Linked DNA regions of Homo sapiens: regions 1 and 2 are each linked to region 3. Evidence: fine-mapped expression QTL. A gene starts in region 3. Each other region holds a variant in brackets. All regions are shown on one strand. Distances are from middle to middle.

Region 1 (6,984 bases), 90 kb before region 3:
CTACTCTTGCATGGCTTGCCTCAATAAAATCCAAATCTGTCAACATGTTTTTTGAAACTCTGTACTGTTGGGCCCCAAACATCTTTTCCAAGCTGTTATTCCCCCAGATTCCCAGGTGCATGATCCATGTTGACCCTGGATGACTTACCATGCTACAAACGCACAACTTGTAAAACATTTTGTACCAACATGCATGTTTGTTCCCTGTGGCATATTCTTGCACCTCCTCCTCTTTAATATCTTTAATTGCATCTCCTCAGCAAAGATTTGCCCTGTCACCCAAATTAATCATGCTGTCTATTCACAAAGCACTTGGTTAGTAACTTTTCAAAGGGACTAACCCTATTTTTCTTTGAGTGAGTTGTTATTTACAAACAGGCTGGATTAGCTGATCTGTTGTAAACATCTTTAAAGCAAGGATCACATCTTCCTCTCTGATTTTTCTACATTCTAGCATCATGTATTTCCTATCAAAGTTGCCGAGTGAATATCTTTTCTTGAATGAATTGTAGAAAAAGCCTTGTTTTGGCTTGAAAAAGTCTATGAGTTGTTGTAGTTTATCTTGAATATTTCTACATTAAATTCACCAGCATAGAAAATAATACTCTCAAATGTGCAATATTGTTAGATAACAAGGTACACTGGAACTGCAATATTGTTTGAAATATTTAAATCACATCATTCCAAATTGAATTCAACATCAAGTGGTCTTTTTTTTTTTCCTGCTACATAGGTAATACAGGATAGTTTTGATGACTGAAAAATAGGCTATGTTTCCAGACTAGATTAGAATGTGGGGAGAAGCTTAGAAAGAGAAGGCTGAAAAGAGAAAGAGAACAATGGAAGAGAAGTAGAGAACTAAATGCATCAAATTAATTGAACGAAGTCTGAACTAATTAGTAAAGAGCCATCAGAAGGAAAGAGGTGTTGAGAAACAGAAAGTCAAAAAATCCAGGGCTGGGTGCAGTGACTCACGCCCATAATCTCAGCACTTTGGGAGGCCGAGGCGGGCTGATCACTGGAGGCCAGGAGTTCGAGACCAGTCTGGCCAACATAGTGAAACCCTGTCTCTACTAAAAGTACAAAAATTAGCTGGATGTAGTGGTGCATGCCTATAAACCCAGGTACTCAGGAGGCTGAGGCTGGAGAATCCCTTGAACCCGGGAAATGGAGGCTGCAGTGAGCCAAGATCACACCACTGCACTCCAGCCTGGGTGACAAAGTGAGACTCTGTCTCAAAAAGAAAAAAAAAAAAGTGAAAAATCCTAGTTATTGGAATTAGGTATGGGAACAGGCAATTTGGTTTTCAGTGTTGTTTGGGAATATTTAAGTCTTAATTTATACAAGTTAGCCTCACATTTAAAAGTAAGAAGATCTCTATTGAGATAATGGATCATTACTGGAGTGCAATTGGTAAATGACTTCACTTTTCATAAGTGTTTTGATGTGAATTTATGAATATTCTCTAGCTGCTCACTGGGTTTGTGAAGTTAGTTTGAATGAGACATGATTGCACCCTAGGCAAGTCAGAATGTACTTGCTTTGATTTCACTGTGATTACTTTTACTATAAAAGATTCCCATTAAATACAAGTAAGTTCCCACTTAACTTTCCTGTAATTCCACCCTTGCTGCAAGCAGCTGACAGGCAAATTTGATCAGATGTAATACATCCAATCAGATAAAGAAGGGGTTTCAGCAAAACACTTGGCAGATTTGAAGAGCTGAATAGAAAAGGTCATGAGCTGTCTGAAAACTTTTAGACACAAGAGGAAGCAAATAGTAGAAAGCGTGAGAGCACTCTTAGGACAGGGATTGGCATTTCCCCCTTACGGTTTCTCACGTAATTTGTGAAGACATAAACACAAGGGTAACTGTTAAATTCGTTGTAATTATCACATGTACAGAACAGCCCAGTTCACATAATGCTGCACTAAATTCAAAGTTAGTGTTATAAAAAAAGATGCCTCTAAAACATATGAATTACCTAGGAGTTTTTAAAAAATGCAGATTCTGATTTTGTAAGTTTGAGATGGGTTGCAACAGTTTGTATTTCCAACATGCCTCTCATGCGGCAGCCATGCTGCAAGGGCATGTTTAAACTTCCCCATTTACACAGGCCATGAGCCCCGAAACACCCATCAGCAATCCTGGGATGGGTGTTTCGGGGCTCATGGCCTGTGTAAATGGGGAACTTTAATGTTAGATGTTCATTCCATCTTTGGAAACATTATTATATAGATCATATAAGATTTAGATTAGAAACTAACCAAGCATTTTCTCTTCAACCATACATTTACTCTGCTACTCCTTTAAGCTTTGCATACAGTTGAAGATTGGCTGTACCTATACCACCCTCAGATCTGAGCAAGTGAGGGCCTTACCCCAGTCCTGTGCCTCATAGAGCCTTATTCTTTGGAGTGCCCTCTATGAAATTTTCCAAGTCCTCTTCGGATGCCTGCTCTGTTTTTTCTCTCTGGGGTACTCTCCCTTTCTCTCCCTGTGTATAAGGTTGACCAGATATCCTGGGGAGCTCTGCAACTTGTAACTATAGGATCATCCTGGGGTCTTGTTTCCAGGCTTTCGTTTCAGGAGGGTGGCCTGGAGAGCAGACTGCTACTTCTGGTTGGCAAAGAATTTCTTTTGCAGGATTACATGAAATTTGGCTGCCAGAATGATGCTGACATGCTGATTTTGGATAATTCTCACTCACATTGGGCATAGATCTAATTTAGGGTTGTAAGCTATCTAAGGTCCACTGCCCAAGCCGCATGTGTTGACCCATGCATCCACTCGCAGTTTGTTCTGAGTATGATGCCACTTCTGCTATATAACATCCAAGGGCTGCAGGGTGACATCAGATGTCCTTACCCCGCTTGCCAATGGCATTCAGGAAAATCATCCTATCCCCTCTGCAGGTTCTATGCCATGGGTCAGGCAGTCCTTTTGGCTGGGGGTTGGGGGGTGGCTGCACTTATCTCTTCTGAGGGCTTTTAAGACTATTGCTTCTTCACAACAGTGGGCCTTTCTGACTGATGTGATGATGCTGTGTTCTCTTCTCCCTGGTCAATGTTAAGCTCTCCTAGAGGAGGGACAGACATTCCTTGTGCAAATGGGGCTGTTCATTTTGTTCTGTCCACAATCCCCTCTCTGCTGCTGGTGGTGTGTGGGAGGTAGGGTACGGTCAGGAGTGGCAGAGATCAATTCTAGAAATGTAATGATGATGGCCTAAAAAGTTCAAGACAAGACACAGTTGAAAGATGTGTTGTTCTATGTGATGCTATAACATTCTAAATGATAAATTTAAAATGAGCAATAAACAACGAATCATTCATGTTTTCTCGTATATATACCCTGGGTAAGACTTGAATTTGTGATTATCATCAAACATTGTACCAGTAACAATTGTACTATATTGAACTGTGTTGTACCAGTAACAATCTTTGAGTGATTGTCTCTGAGTGATACCCAGTATTCATGGGTAGCACAATGGATGATGCAATGTCAAAAGGCATAATGTAGCTAAGATTAAATAAATGGTAGCAGGGTATTGGAAAGGGGTGAAGATTCATATTATTTTATTACAAACATATTACAAAGAGCCATGGCATTATGAATAATAACAGCATTGCTACCCTTTCTTGTGGTAAAAGATATGAAATTAGCTAGGAATGGCTCATTTGATAAAAAAGAAATGATTCCTGGACCAAAGAGATAGTACCAGGATGCCGAGAAGAATCTTTACATGTACTGCTCGGACAATAAATACACAAATCTTCCTATTATTCTAAATCTTTATCAAAAAATCACTATACTGCATGCACATGGACCTATAAATTTTATAAAGCATTTTTAATAAAAGTGTTTATATAGATAGAAGCCCTGCAAAAAAATATTTGTCTGGTGATCTGCACATCCTAGCAGTAGCCCTTGGAACTGGGATTTTGGTGAAAGAGAGGGCTCTTAGAGAGAATTATAGATGAAGATTGTCATAGGAAAACATTTGGAAGCTCAGGTGGAGCTTTTTATTTTTTTGAGACGGAGTCTCACTCTGTTGCCCAGGCTGGAGTGCGGTGGCGTGATCTTAGCTCACTGCAACCTCCGCCTCCCAGGTTCAAGTGATTCTCCTGCCTCAGCC[T/A]CCTGAGTAGCTGGGATTACAGGCATGTACCACCATGCCCAGCTAAATTTTGTATATTTAGTAGAGACAGGGTTTCGCCTTGTTGGCCAGGCTGGTCTCGAACCCCTGACCTCAGGTGATCTGCCCCCCTTGGCCTCCCAAAGTGCTAGGATTACAAGCATGAGTCACCACGCCTGGCTGCAGGTGGAACTTTTAAGGAGGAGGACTACACTCAAAATAAGCAAGAAAAATGGACAAAGAGAGATGAATATTTTGCTCGCACATTTCTCTGAGCTTCATTCATAAAAGATTAAAACCAAAATGGAATTAAAATAAGAAGTTTTCTGCTCTGAACTTAACACTGGAATTTAAGAGGTTTCTATTTTTGTCAATATGTATATCATAAAATATTTTTTAGTTGCCTGTGTATGGTAATAGTTCGTCCGCAAAATGTTCTTTCTCAGCGTGCTCTTCCCTGACTCTACTACTTTAAATGCTCTCTCTCATATTTGCAGTCCCTTTATTGTTTGTCCCACCTACTAGAATGTGAGCTCTGTTAAGACAAGGAGTTTGCCTTATTCATATATGTTTCCCTGGGCCTAGAACTTTGAGGGCACTCAGTATTTGTTAAATTAATATTTAAATAGATGAACTAAGAAATACTGGAAACATCCTAAGTGCCTATCAAAAGGGAATGGTTAGAGTACCATTTTAGTACTGTGTACTCATGAAAAAAAGTTGAATTCTCTATACTGAAACAAACAGCTGTTTGTGATAAGTTGGTAAGCTAAAAGAGCAAGTTACAGAACATAATGTATGGTATGAAACTACTGATACGACCCATGCAATAAGAATATAATGTATTTGTCATGAACATGCATCAGTAAAAGACTGGAAGATTGTGCATTGACAGTGTGACCTCTGGGAAATGGGATTGCTGGGGGTAAGCTTCTATTTTTTACTTTCCATGTTTCTCTTTTGAATTTTTGTAACCATACTTTAAAAATAATACATTTTACTCATAAATTTCTTGATTATAAGGCAAGAAATTAAAAGAATGTTATGAAAAAAATTATTGCCGGTGACTAAGAAAAAAAATTAGAAACAATAGCACTGTGCTTAATCTCACACATAGAAAGGGGTCAGTAAGTTCCAGTTGATAAACCAGCACTCCTGCTGTCAAAGAAACCAGAGTTGAGAAAACCCCTGGATTCATTTAATAACTGCCAGATGTAGCTGTTACCATCCACATCCTTGGTTCTTGAAGGACACTCATAGAGACAGAGTTTAGAAGTCAAACGTTTTATTTTATAACTACAAGAGGTTATTTTTTTAAAGCACAATGACATATTTATTTTTAGTGAATTGTTTTTGTGACTTTTAAAAAAATCATTTGTTTTTAATAAAAACAAGAGGATAGTCCATGCAAAAGCATTCTATAATACATGTGAAAAACACACAAAACAAGATTAGTCTTGATGTAGTGGGAGTCGGATTATTTTTTCTATTAAAAAAAAAAAGGCTGGGCACGGTGGCTCACACCCGTAATCCCAGCACTTTGGGAGGCCGAGGCAGGTGGATCACGAGGTCAGGAGATCGAGACCATCTTGGCTAACATGGTGAAACCCCGTCTCTACAAAAAATACAAAAAATTAGCCGGGTGTGGTGGCGGGCGCCTGTAGTCCCAGCTACTCAGGAGGCTGAGGCAGGAGAATGGCGTGAACCCGGGAGGTGGAGCTTGCAGTGAGCTGAGATCATACCACTGCACTCCAGCCTGGGCGAAAGAGTGAGACTCCATCTCAAAAAAACAAAAAACAAAACAAAACAAAACAAAAACCAAAAAACCTTTCTTTCTTCCTTTTCTTCTCTTGGGTCCATTGTTTCTTATGTAATAGCCAGTACAGTTCCTTTTCCTGTGTTAGCTTTAATTTTTGAGCCTAAAATTGTCTAAACATCTCTGGGACCAAGGATATATGAAAGCATAAATTACAAAGAAAAAGGTTATCATGGGGCTAGAACTTAAAATTCTGAGATTTAAAATAGAGTCGGTCACCTTTCATAATGTATCTTATAAGACTATAAAAAGGGAGGAAATATAGAGGGTCCACTTTTGGTGGACTTCAGAGTTATACAGAAGACAGAATCAAGTAATAAAGTCCAGAATAGAGTTGCACCGTTTTGGGCTAATGAAAAAGGAAGAGGCTAGGGAAATCTTTCAAATGCTGAATCTTAAAATATGTCCAGGTTGAGATAAAGCTGCCTGCTGAAACTTGATCTCTTAGCTGTGCACTCATTCTGTGTTCTTGTTGATATTCTGTGGCATGGCTACAGATTGGAATGCTACTTGAACAGTCTTAAACCTTCCCTGTGTAAATAAGTTCTCTTTGTATTTACTTTTAGGGAGGTAGCTTTTGTCCACCTTTAAATGGAAAAATAAAATATCTTAAAGAAAACCTTTTAAGTATGTTTATGTAAGCACAGAAGTTTTTAAGAGGCATGAAAGGAAAAACAGACCTATGAAAAACTACGTAAATATTCTTGAGAAACAGGAAGACAGGTAATTAATCTTGTTCGTTTGACTGCTGCTAGTGCCAAACCAATGTTTTTAATATTATCAGGACTGAAAAAATGTGAAATAAAGCTTTGCAGCATTGATTCGAAACTATTCATATCATTATCATGCATACATCTCTGGCTGGAGCTTATTTATTCATTTCATTTTGATTTTGTGGCCAACCACTGCTTCAAATTGAATATTCTGCATACGATTTAAAATCGCTGAGGCGCGTTCAGGAAGAAACCTGTACAAAAAAGAAAAAAAAATTGAAAAATTTTCCATTTAAAATCTTTGACAACAGAGTTCTGTTT
Region 2 (6,984 bases), 26 kb before region 3:
ACCCCTTTCTGGTAACATCTTTCTGGCAACCACGAAGGGACTAAAGTGCAGAAACCCTGACCCTATGGCTACCTTTGGGTAAGTGTTGGGGTCCTGTAACATATTTCTGGCAGACCATAGAGTTACAATACTGAAGAGACCCCTGACCCAAAGGAAAATCATCAGGGCACAACAGTGGGCTGACTTTGAGTAAGTGGGGTGCCTACACCTGGGTAAAGAATGGGATTGGGTTAGAGGCCCAACTTAGGGGAGTTAGAGTCTCTCCTAAGACAGAGTGGGTTACAGGTCCTTCTTAATAAAAGGCAAGGACACTTGACTGACGTCAAGTTAGAGGCCTGACTTAGGAGGATTAGAGTCCCTTCTAAGATTTAGGAGGTTAGGCCAGGTGCAGTGGCTCACGCCTGTAATCCCCAGCACTGTGGGAGGCCAAGGCGGGTGGATCACTTGAGGTCAGGAGTTCGAGACCAGCTTGGCCAACACGGTGAAACCCGGTCTCTACTAAAAATACAAAAATTAGCCAGACGTGGTGATGCATGCCTGTAATCCCAGCTACTCAGGACACTGAGGCAGGAGAATTGCTTGAACCCGGGAGGCCGAGGTTGCAGTGAGCCGAGATTGTGCTGCTGCACTCCAGCCTGGCCAACAGAGCGAGACTCCATCTCAAAAATAAAATATAATAAAATAATAAATAAAATGAATAAGATTTAGGGGGTTAGAGGACCCTCTCAGTAAAGTCCCTTTCAGCTAAGAACAGGTTTGGCACTATGGGATGTTAACTGCTGTTCTCTTTGGATTAATCTGCCTTTGTACTCTTTGCTGATGGCTATGGGTGACAGGGTTAGGCATGCACAGGATCGTGGGACATGGGGAGCTTTTTCCTGCCTAAAAGGGGAAACTTGAGAGCTGACAGGATTGCTGAAAAAGATCCCTGCTCAACCGACAGCAGCAGCCTGAAGTTTTCAGTGTTGCTGCAATAGGTGGGTCTTTCTCTGGCCTCCCTGATCATTTTGCCTTCCCCACCCTGCCACAGGCAATACTTTCCGTCTCTACTTTTCCTTTCCCTTTCTTATCTTTTCTATTTCTCAGGGCGACCTTCTTGCCCAGAGACCACATGTTGAAATTCCAAGTCAGAGGTTGGATTAAAGATGATGGGGCCCAACTGGGGGTAAATTTAAGCCTTGCCAGTTTGATATTGGGTGCTAAGCAGAGTAGCTAATGTCTATGTTTTATCATGCATATTTTGCTCTGGTCAAAATGAAAAAAAAAATTTTTTTCCTTTATGATGCAGCTTGGCCCCCGGGGAGATGGTGCCACAAGCCCGATCACTAGGGCTGCTCAGGGAAAAGGAACCCAGAAGCCTGGCATGCCAGCAAAAGGCTAAGAATTTGTTACCAGTCAGATTTTTAGCTTCTCTCTCTCTGTGCAAACAGTTGAATGAATGGAAAAAAAATCAGTGTTTATCACCTCTGTAAAGACTTAATTAATGCGAAAAAGAATTCTAAGGCTAGTCTTAAGCTGGTGTATTTTGTGCTATGAATTCGTTTTTCCGTGTAGAGGGGTACTTCAGGATAAAACATGGGCTTAGAACACCTGTAAGCCCGCTTTTCAAGACTACCCAGCAAGCTGGTCAGTAACAAACTTGGTTGCAGGTCCCTGAAACAAACAAAAAACCCGATGAAGTCTCCACCTTGTTTTATGTGCTTGGGAGCTTGACCTTTTAACCGCATGGCAGTACCTTCTCTTGGGCTCTGTCTTCCAGGGAACAAGAATTTTAAAGTTCATGTCATAGCCAGCTCTGAAAATCATATTAAATAGTTAAAAGCCTTTGCAAGCTCAAAATTAACTAATCTAGACTACTTCTGAGAAAAGAAATAGACACTGCCCAGACCTGTAGCTCAGTAGCTAAGGTTTTGCACTTTCACAGTGGCAGTCTAGGTTCAATTCCCCACCCAGGAAATAAGTCATTACTGATTTAATATATGTGTCTATTCTCTTCTCCTCCATGGACTGTCTTCAATTTTCCTTCTTCTAAGCACCTAGGAGTTTACCTTTGGTAAAGTTCAGAAGCTGGAAATATTGGCCGCTTGGCATGGCTAAAGTCGGGTAATAAGAGCTCTGAAAGGATTTCTTCTTTAAAGAGCACTATGGTGAAAAGTCAGCTTAATTAAAAGTGGAATAAGCTATAAATATATTTAAAAGGCCTTTATGTTTTTCTCTTCTTGAAGCTTGTTTTGCTGGAAAAAGGTTTTTTCTTCTCAGTCAAGTGAATTATTTTTGTTTTTTTGTTTTGTTTTGTTTTGTTTTGTCTTGTTACTATTAATGCTCACATGAAAGGCCCGTAGATAACTTCTGGTAGCTTGGGACTACTTGGGAAAAACAAAGGCAGCACCACAGATCCAGTTTTGGGAAAAAAAAAAAAAAAAGAAAAAAAACCCCTCTGTTTTCCTCATGAGACCCCAAGAATTAAAAGCAGATAGATTCCTCTCAAAATCAAAGGCTCTGTTCTGTTTTGCATTGTGTTATCTGACGGTTTTGAGTTTGGGGGAGGGGGGTTATCAGCAATTACTTTGCATTATGAGAGAGCTTTGGTGTGTAACAACTAGGTAGGAAATGTACTTTAAGGGGTGGCTAATAGTAGTTATGGAGGGATACTTGACTCTGCACACTTGGATCAGAGAAGCATGCTCTAGGCCACCTGGAAGATAAGGCAACATCCTCACCCCTCACTGGGAGATGAGACTCTCATGAGGATGGGCTGATTACAAAATGGGCTGATTGGCTTTAGGTTGCCTTGCAATGAAATGCACAGTCGGTAAAAGCACTGCATTGTCTTCTCCCGTAGTATTTCCCTCCTTTTGGGGATCCAGGATCCAGTATAAAATACCACCTTTAATTTTGGAGATCTGTCTGCCTTCAGCTGCTTATTTGCTACTTATTTAGCCCTAGAAATGCATGCTGTCCCAGCTCTGTTCCTCCAAGGGCTCCACTCTGAAACCTGTCATCCAATTAAGAAACTGGCAAATGGTGGGGCGAGGTGGCTCATGCCTGTAATCCCAGCACTTTGGGAGGCTGAGGTGGGCGGATCACTTGAGGTCAGGAGTTCAAGACCAGCCTGGCCAACATGGGGAAAACCCGTCTCTAGTAAAAATACAAAAATTAGCTGGGTGTGGTGGTGGGCGCCTGTAATCCCAGCTACGCGGGAGGCTGAGGCATGAGAATCACTTGAACCTGGGAGGCAGAGGTTGCAGTGAGCCAAGATCATGCCACTGCACTCCAGCCTGGGTGACAAGAGCGAAACTTTGTCTCAAAAAAAAAGAAACTGGCAAACGAAAAACTGTATAAGTGCTGAATCTTCTATTTATAGTGTATGTTTATATATTACAAAGCTCTAAT[C/T]AATTGACTTAGAAAAGTAAGTGCGTAAATATTTTTTCAGAAAAATAGAAACTAATGCCTTTTTGTTCGTGTGACTTTAGTAATCTTTTGAAAATAAAGACAGTTTTAAAGTTTATTGGTAAAATAAAATGTCTTAAAAATGTAGACATTTGGTCTAAATTAAGGTCAGATATCAGATTTGCTAAATGCTTTAAGGACAAACTGTTTCTTTAACTTTTGAAAACTGTTCTATTTACCTACTTTAAAGCCATCAGATTCTAGATAAGGCCTCATGCCCCTGGCTATGCTGGAGAGTCAGCCCTTATCTGCACTTCTGCCTGGTGTGTCCTAGACTAGTCTCCACACCTAGTACATAATTAAAATCCCTTACTTAACCAACGTTTTCATCAAAAATAAAAGTTGCTAGAAGTTAGCATTGTAATGTGTAATTAAGACTACTGAAGAAACAGTTTTACATGCAAGGTGTATAAAAAAGGTGAAATGTGTTTTTGGTTAAAAAAAAAATTGTAAGAAGAAGCATGGGAATGCGGATTATTTTCTGCCTAGATTAAAGTGTTAAAGGATTGTGTTAAGTGAAAAAAAAAAAAAGATTTAAAGAAGTTGTGGAAGGTTTTTTTTAGATGGAGTTTTGTTCTTGTTGCCCAGGCTGGAGTGCAATGGCGTGATCTTGACTCACCGCAACCTCTGCTTCCCGGGTTCAAGCAATTCTTCTGTCTCAGCCTCCCAGGTAGCTGGGATTACAGGCATGTGCCACCATGCCTGGCTAATTTTGTATTTTTAGTAGAGACAGGGTTTCTCCATGTTGATCAGGCTGGTCTTGAACTTCCGACCTCAGGTGATCCACCCATCTTGGCCTCCCAAAGTGTTGGGATATACAGGTGTGAGCCACTGCACCTGGCCTTTGTGGAAGGTTTATAAAAATTAATTGTAAGAGATTCTGTGTATGAACATATTAGCTAAAGTTAAAGGGGTATTATTCAGTTTTTCCATAAATTAAACATTGGAATAAAAGCACAACAGGTTTCTCTTAGAGGACTTATCTGCGCTTTCACAAAAAAATGTAAAGGGTTATAAAGGTTTATAAAATCTTACCTTAGGATTAAACATTAAAATTGGGTAAATATGTCTCTAAGGTTTTATTAAAAATTGGGTTTAACATTAATAATACATTAATGTAAAGGTGAAATTTCGCTTATTTGGTATAAAAATCATCCAGGAAGCATTCTCAAATGTGAAACAGTGTTTTGCTTTCTTTGGACTATATTTGTATAAATATGTTATTGGTATATGTTCCAAAGTTATAAGAAACTCCTTTATTTCTAATATGACTTAGTGTATGTTACTAATAATTATAATTGTTATGTAAAATTTTGTATGCCACAAAAGTAACCAAATTTCCTTATCAATTGTGGCTTTAATAGTGGCTGTCCTAAAGTTTTTATCATCCACAGACAGTTGTTGTCTTGTTTTAATCTTCTTTAAAAGGTGGTTTATAATCAACTATAGAATTCTAGCAGATGTTCTTAAATGCAGGTTGCTAATAACTTTAGAAATTGTAACATTAAAATAAAGAAAACAACTTTCGAAACTCTCATAAAAAGCTGGAATGTTCATGAATAACAAGTAGAACAGGAGTTAACTGAATTAACTGAACCAATAGAAAACTGAAGTAATTTTTTTTAACTTTGCTTAAAATATTGCTGATCTTTTATTTTTCAAAGGAAACTTCTTTTAAGCTATTTACAGCTTGCAGCAATTAAGTAAAATATACTCCTATGAACAAAATTTGAAACATATTTGTTTCTCTCTACCTGATTTCTCCGGAATGGAAACCAATTGTAAGTATTCTTAACTTATGGCAATATAGTTGTTTGTATAAGTGCAACAAAAATCTGTTTTCTTTTGTAATGGGACACTATTGGAGAAATTGGTTATTTTACCAAGGCTTTGACTGGAATGGTGTGCTTTCCTTTAAAGAATCAAACTTGACTTGTAAAGCCAATAAAAGCCCTATGGGAAACTGGCCTCATACTTTGCCTACACAGTCCCTGTACAGGGTTTCTGACCTATGGTAAGTAAAGAATGTCACTTTCTTACAGGTCCAGGAGGCCCAAGTTAACTTGGGACCTCAAAAGAAAAGTGTTTTACCCAACTCATAGGTATTTAAGGGTACAAACCCATGGCAGGGCTTAGCTTTAAAAAAGTCTTACCTGAGATTCCTTATAAAACAGAGTTCCATCAAAGCCAATTAAAAAGCCTGTGTGAAAAATAATTATTCTCGCTGCACTTTATACAAATAATCAGACCAAGTATAATAAAGCAAATCAGTCTTACCATAATGTGTCTTTAATAAAAATGGGAAACTGGAGAGAGAATATTATATTTCAAGAACTATAGTATACTTGTTATTAAATTCTAGTCTCAGTTGTTTTTAAGTTTGTTTCTGCAATTTAGGCTAACCCTGTTTATTCCTGTAAACCAACCAGGGATCTCTAACTGCTGCTCAGAAGAAACAAGAGGGATGGGTAATGTAAAATTCTAGGCACATTGCAATCAGCTAGCAACCCCATATCAGCTTGGTCTCAACAGTTGCCCAGTTCATGGAAAGCCTTCTAATTTAGTTTACTTGGAATAACTTTACTTACTTTGCTTTACTCTTATGGAATATATTGCTGTTATACCCTTTGTGTGGGAACACAGGACAGGCTTACTAAATGTTTTCTTAAACTAAATACTTATTAATCTCCCAGATATCACCTCTTGTCAAAACTCAAGAGTCGGCTAGGCACGGTGGCTCATGCCTGTAATCCCAGCACTTTGGGGGGCCGAGGCGGGTGGATCACAAGGTCAGGAGATCAAGACCATCCTGGCTAACATGGTGAAATCCCGTCTCTACTAAAAATACAAAAAATTAGCCGGGTGTGGTGGCGGGCACCTGTAGTCCCAGCTACTCAGGAGGCTGAGGCAGGAGAATGGCATGAACCCGGGAGGCAGAGTTTGCAGCGAGCTGAGATCGCACCACTGCACTCCAGCCTGGGTGACAGAGCGAGACTCCATCTCAAAAAAACAAAAAACACACACACAAAAAACTCAAGAGTCATGAATGGCCCTCGCCACACTGATGCTTTCTGACTAAGCTCCTCTCTACCCTGAACACAAGAGACCCTAACAGTTAGGCAGGAATATCATGGCCCCATTCAGCCTGAAGAAGTTACAAAAGATGGATTTTCATCCGTCTGCAACTCTTAGGATTAAGAGTTCTCTTATAAAAGGGAAGGGGGAAATGTCAAGAGGCATGTGAAACAGAACAACTCCATCTTGAATAGGAGCTGGGTAAAATGAGGCTGAAACCTACCGGACTGCATTCCCAGACTGTTAACGCATTCTAAGTCACAGGATGAGATAGGAGGTCAGCACAAAATACAGGTCATAAAGACCTCGCTGATGATAAAACAGGTTACAGTAAAGGAGATGGCCAAAACCCATTAAAACCAAAATGGCCACGAGAGTGACCTCTGGTCGTCCTCACTGCTACACTCCCACCAGCGCATGACAGTTTACAAATGCCATGGCAATGGCAGGAAGTTACCC
Region 3 (5,000 bases):
GAACTAAAGCTGTGGAAACGTTGAGTAAGTTACCCAATCAGAAAACGAAAGCTCAGATGTGTCTGACTATATCACCATGCCAGACCTTGACCATGCTGGTCCAGGCTGGACCTGGGTTGTATTTTTCATTGCTCTTGTAATTACTTTTTTATTTATTAATTTAATTTAATTAATTTATTTATTTTTAAGACAGAGTTTTGCTCTTGTTGCCCAAGCTGGAATGCAATGGCATGATCTCGGCTCACTGCAACCTCTGCCTCCCAGGTTCAAGCAGTTCTCCTGCCTCAGCCTCATGAGTAGCTGGGATTACAAGTACACGCCACCACGCTCAACTAATTTTTTGTATTTTTGGTAGAAATGGGGTTTCACCATGTTAGCCAGGCTGGTCTTGAACTCCTGACCTCAGGTCATCTGCCCGCCTCGGCCTCCAAAAGTGCTGGGATTACAAGTGTGAGCCACCGCATCCAGCCTGCACTTGTAATTACTTAATGTCCATTTTCCCTACTAGACTGAGGTCATGGAACCTTATTTTCTGTTTGTCACCCTATCCCTAATGTCTAAGCAGCAGACAGTCATTATTTGTTGATTGCTGTCTTCATCAGCCACTCACTGGGTTAACCCTCATTTAACTTCACATCCTTTGAATTATTGTTTACAGCATTGCATGTCAACTAGTGTGTAATGGATAATGTTTCAGGCCATCAGGTATCTTCTAGAAACCCCTTTGTTCATCTACCAAAGGTCAAATAAAAGGTTGGATTCTAGGTCCTCTTCTCCTCCCTAAGCCACACCTACACTTGTCCTAGGTAAAAAATTACACTGAAAGTTTTTTTCCCTTTTATTGTTTTTACTAAAAGATGCTTTCCCGCCACTCCTTCAGTATCACAGGTCAAACGTGGTAAAAAATGTTTTTTAAAAAAATTTGAGACAGGGTCTCACTCTGTCACCCAGGCTGGAGTGCAGTGGGGCGTTTACAGCTCACTGCAGTCTCCACCTCCCAGGCTCAAGCAACCCCCCACCTCAGCCTCCCGGAAAAGATGCTTTTTAAAATTACTCTTGGCAATAACTATGGCAATGTAGCATTGGTTTCTGTTGAGTATAATCTTTTTGTTTGTTTTTTGAGACGGAGTCTAGCTCTGTCGCCCAGGCTGAAGTGCAGTGGCGCCATCTTGGCTCACTGCAACCTCCGCCCCGCGGGGTTCCCGCCATTCTCCTGCCTCAGCCTCCCCAATAGCTGGGACTACAGACGCCCGCCACCACGCCCGGCTAATTTTTTTTTGGTATTTTTAGTAGAGACGGGGTTTCAGTGTGTTAGGATGGTCTCGATCTCCTGACCTCGCGATCCGCCTGCCTTGGACTCCCAAAGTGCTGGGATTACAGGCGTGAGCCAACGGCGAGTATAATCTTTCAAACCACTTTTCTCATTAACAGTAAGTAGGACTTTCTCTTAATAGGTACAAGCTTCTTACTCTTTTAATATATAGCTAAAACGATTGTTTTTTCCCTATTTTTAAAATAGAGGGATCAATGAAATCAGGTTCAGGAAAAAATTATGAGTTATCCTTAGGGCAAAAATGGGGATCAATTTACAAATGGGGCAGTAACTGGGACTATTATAACCTCTAGGTCTGTTTATCATGTGATCATACAACATATTAATTCATGCCCTCCCATCTGCAAAATGGCAATACTAATTTTTTTTTCCTCCCTGCTTTGCAGAGATGAGGTAAAGGGTGGTTGCCAGCAAAATGCAGACACATCCACAAATTAAAGGTACCAGAAAGTAAAACATAGTAAACACTGTTACCTTATTTATATCCCAGAGAACCAGCTTGCTTTTAAGTTTAGCAAATTCATAGGCAGTCAGTCTCCCAATTCCATGCCCAGCTCCTGTAATCAGCACGATTTCGCCGGTGACTGATTTTCTCCTCTTAGGAATAAAAAGCTTCACGAAGGACTCTAGGGAGCAGACGATCAGTAACGGGAGAAGCAGGAGGATGTCCAGAAGAAATTTCATCCCTTTTGTGGCTGCGAGCGTTTGGTGTGTTTTTTTTTTTTTTTACCACTCTAAACTGCTTTTAGAGGGTAGCTCGATCTAACACCAGAAAGAGTAGGGGCGAGAGCAAGGAGGAACTCCCGTATCAAAGAAAAACAACTCCGAAACCGTTCCTTCCGCTGGGCTGGGCTTTGTTGGTCTTTCGCAATTGGCTCGGGCTGCAGTGCTTGCTAGCTCAGAGATCTGGGAGGGACGAAGTCCAGACCGGAGCAAAGCTTCCTAGTTCTGCTTTGCGCAGCCCCCACGCGGTGTGTGGCCGCGATTGTCTTTTACACCACTTTCTCCCGGTGTCGTGAGCCGGCCTTGGAGGGTTAGTTGCTCACTTGTTTTCCTAAATTGGATAAGTTCCAAGGATAACCGACAGTGTCCACAGGCCAGATGCTTCTTTCATAGTTGAAGGTTGCTTATCACTAGATAGGGGGTGCCGCTGGGCGCGGCGGCTCTCGCCTGTGATCCTGGCACTTTGAGAAGCCCTGGCGGGAGGATCGCTTGACCCCAGGAGTTCGAGATCAGCCTGAACAACATAGGGAGACCCCCGGTCTCTTTTTTTTTTTTTTTAATTAGCCAGGCGTAGTGGCGTGTGCCTGTAGTTCCAGCTACTCGAGAGACTGAGGCACGGGAATTGCTTGAGTCCAGGAGGTGGAGGCTACAGTGAGTGAAGATCGCGCCACTGCACTCCAGCCTGGACGAAAAGGCCAGACTTTGTCCTAAAAAACAAAAACTAGATAGAGGATGCAAATGTAGATTCCTATCTTAAAGGATCCTGAAAAGACCAATCGTTCTGCTTCCAGCTGAGAAATTGCGCTACATCACATTTTAGTTTGAACTAAGCACGATTTCTGGAAGACAGGGGAAATTTTGTCTGTTCAAGGACAGCTTCAATCAAGCGCCAGAAAAAATTGTTATCGTATTAAAGGGATTGTTTCCACAAGAAAGAAGAGTATATTTGAATAATCATTTTTCACTTGACCTATTAGAGTTTGAAAATAAAAAATATATGTTGTACTTTAGGAATTTTATCTTTATTCAAGTGAATAAATAGCAAATCATTTAGCCTAAAGATTACCTATGTAACATTTGGTTTTGTAGCCTATATAAATGGGTATTCAGTATATGCTAACTAGTGACTTGAAAAAATTCTAGAGATTGGTTACTGGAAGAAAAGACCTAACTAGGGCTTGTGTCCAGTAAGAGCTTAATAATGGTATTGCATGCATTTTTTTCCAACTCATTTTTGACAGACATTGGATTTGGGTTTTGCGCAAGACACTCCAGTGCTTGGGAAGGGACTTTGTTGTGTGACAATAGTCAACTTTCATATTTAAGAGCCAGAAAGATCACACAAAAAAATCAAAGTTCACAAATAGTTCAAACTCGATTGTCCCTCTTACTTAAGCAGCCATACGTTGTTATAGGGGATGAAGGGATAGTGGCAGCCTCACAAAAGTGAACCCCATTATAGAATTCTTTGAATTCAGAATATCTACAACTTTTTTTTGGATAGCCTCCAAATCCAAATTTACAAAACACTTGTATAGAAAGTTTACAAAGTGTTCTTCCACATATATTATTTCATTTGATTTTCAAAAGCCTCCTAGGAAATAGAGAAAAGTAGAGTCAGGATATATTTATACCTATACTGTAAATGAATAAATCTGTTAGATCAACTTTAAAATCTACACAGTGAGTAAAAGTGTAACTGGGGCTACACATATGTTCAGTGTTTGTCAATTTTTTGGTCCAACACCTACAGGAATAAATTACATCTGACATGGTGATCTACTATAAGAAGTGTTTCAACTATGTTGAGTTTCATATATTGAGGCTCTAGCTATGCTATTTTTTTTTTTTTTAAAGGAGTCTCCCTCTGTCTCCAGGCTGGAGTGCAGTGGCGAAATCTTGGCTCACAGCAACCTCAACCTCCACCTCCCAGGTTCAAGCGATTCTCCTGCCTCAGCCTCCCAAGTAGCTGGGACTACAGGCACGCACCACCACACCCAGCTAATTTTTGTATTTTTAGTAGACAGGGTTTCCCCATGTTGGCTAGGATGGTCTCAATCTCGATCTCCTGTTCCACCCACCTTGGTCTTCCCAAGTGCTGGGATTACAGGCGTGAGCCATGGCACACGGTCTGGCTATGCTATTTCTTATTCCATTCTATTAATTAAAAAAAACTGGGTAGTTTTAACCTACAGTTGATCAAGGTTTCATTGGTTAAGGGAAAGAACACAGCATTTGGACGCAGTCGTACCTGAATCCCTTATGTGTATGTGACTTCATCTCTCTAAACATGTTTCTAAATTTGTAAAATTGAAATAATACTTACCCTACAGGATTCTTGTGACGTTCAAACGAGTTAATAGAAAGCACATTGCTTTATCAACTATTCAACTTTATGTAAATTATAATTAACACCAATAGAATGTGAGTGATGTGAATGGTCTTGTGAATGATGGTTGTAACATGATTTTGTGAACAGCAAACTAGATGTTTACAATTAAAATCATTCACAGTTAGAACACAGATTAGCTTCTATCTGACCACTATGTGATTTTATGTATTTGTGGTTTTAAAAAACATCTTTCATTGGTAGGGTTTAAAATATTTTGTACTTGGGACATCTGTTTTTTAAAAAATTTTTTATCTATTTATTTTGAGACCGGATTATGAGACTAGCTAATTTTTGTATTTTTGATAGAGGCAGGGTGTCCCTACCCTGGTAGAGGCTGGTCTTGAACTCCTGGGCTCAACCAATTCACCGGCCTTGGCCTCCCAAAGTGCTAGGATTACAAGTGCGAGCCACTGCACCCAGCCTATGTGGGGCATCTTAATTACATGCTGCCTTCCCAGAAGTTGAAATAGTATTTAAAAAAAAAAAAAAAAGATAAGGATAAGGGGGTATTTTTCTTTAATTTTTTTTTTTAAACCCTAACTTGAACCAGAA

The links. PIP is the estimated chance that this variant, and not a neighbour inherited with it, causes the effect.
Region 1: its variant is fine-mapped to the expression of HSD17B11 in whole blood (INTERVAL, PIP above 0.99).
Region 2: its variant is fine-mapped to the expression of HSD17B11 in whole blood (TOPMed, PIP above 0.99).

Annotation. Positions count from the first base shown.
Region 1 is chr4:87,298,392-87,305,375 of GRCh38, forward strand. HSD17B13 (hydroxysteroid 17-beta dehydrogenase 13) reads right to left here. Exons shown (of 7, transcript NM_178135.5): 7 at 5,403-6,917. The coding sequence ends at 6,827. MIR5705 (microRNA 5705) reads right to left here and starts at 2,192; the gene lies at 2,104-2,192. The variant T/A (reference allele first, on the strand shown) is at 4,138.
Region 2 is chr4:87,361,864-87,368,847 of GRCh38, forward strand. All of the region lies in intron 4 of HSD17B11 (hydroxysteroid 17-beta dehydrogenase 11), which reads right to left. Among named protein-coding and RNA genes, the nearest start is that of HSD17B11, 26 kb to the right of the region's middle. The variant C/T (reference allele first, on the strand shown) is at 3,394.
Region 3 is chr4:87,389,054-87,394,053 of GRCh38, forward strand. HSD17B11 (hydroxysteroid 17-beta dehydrogenase 11) reads right to left here and starts at 2,135. Exons shown (of 7, transcript NM_016245.5): 1 at 1,808-2,135. The coding sequence starts at 2,017. RefSeq lists enhancers at 2,347-2,416, 2,430-3,002.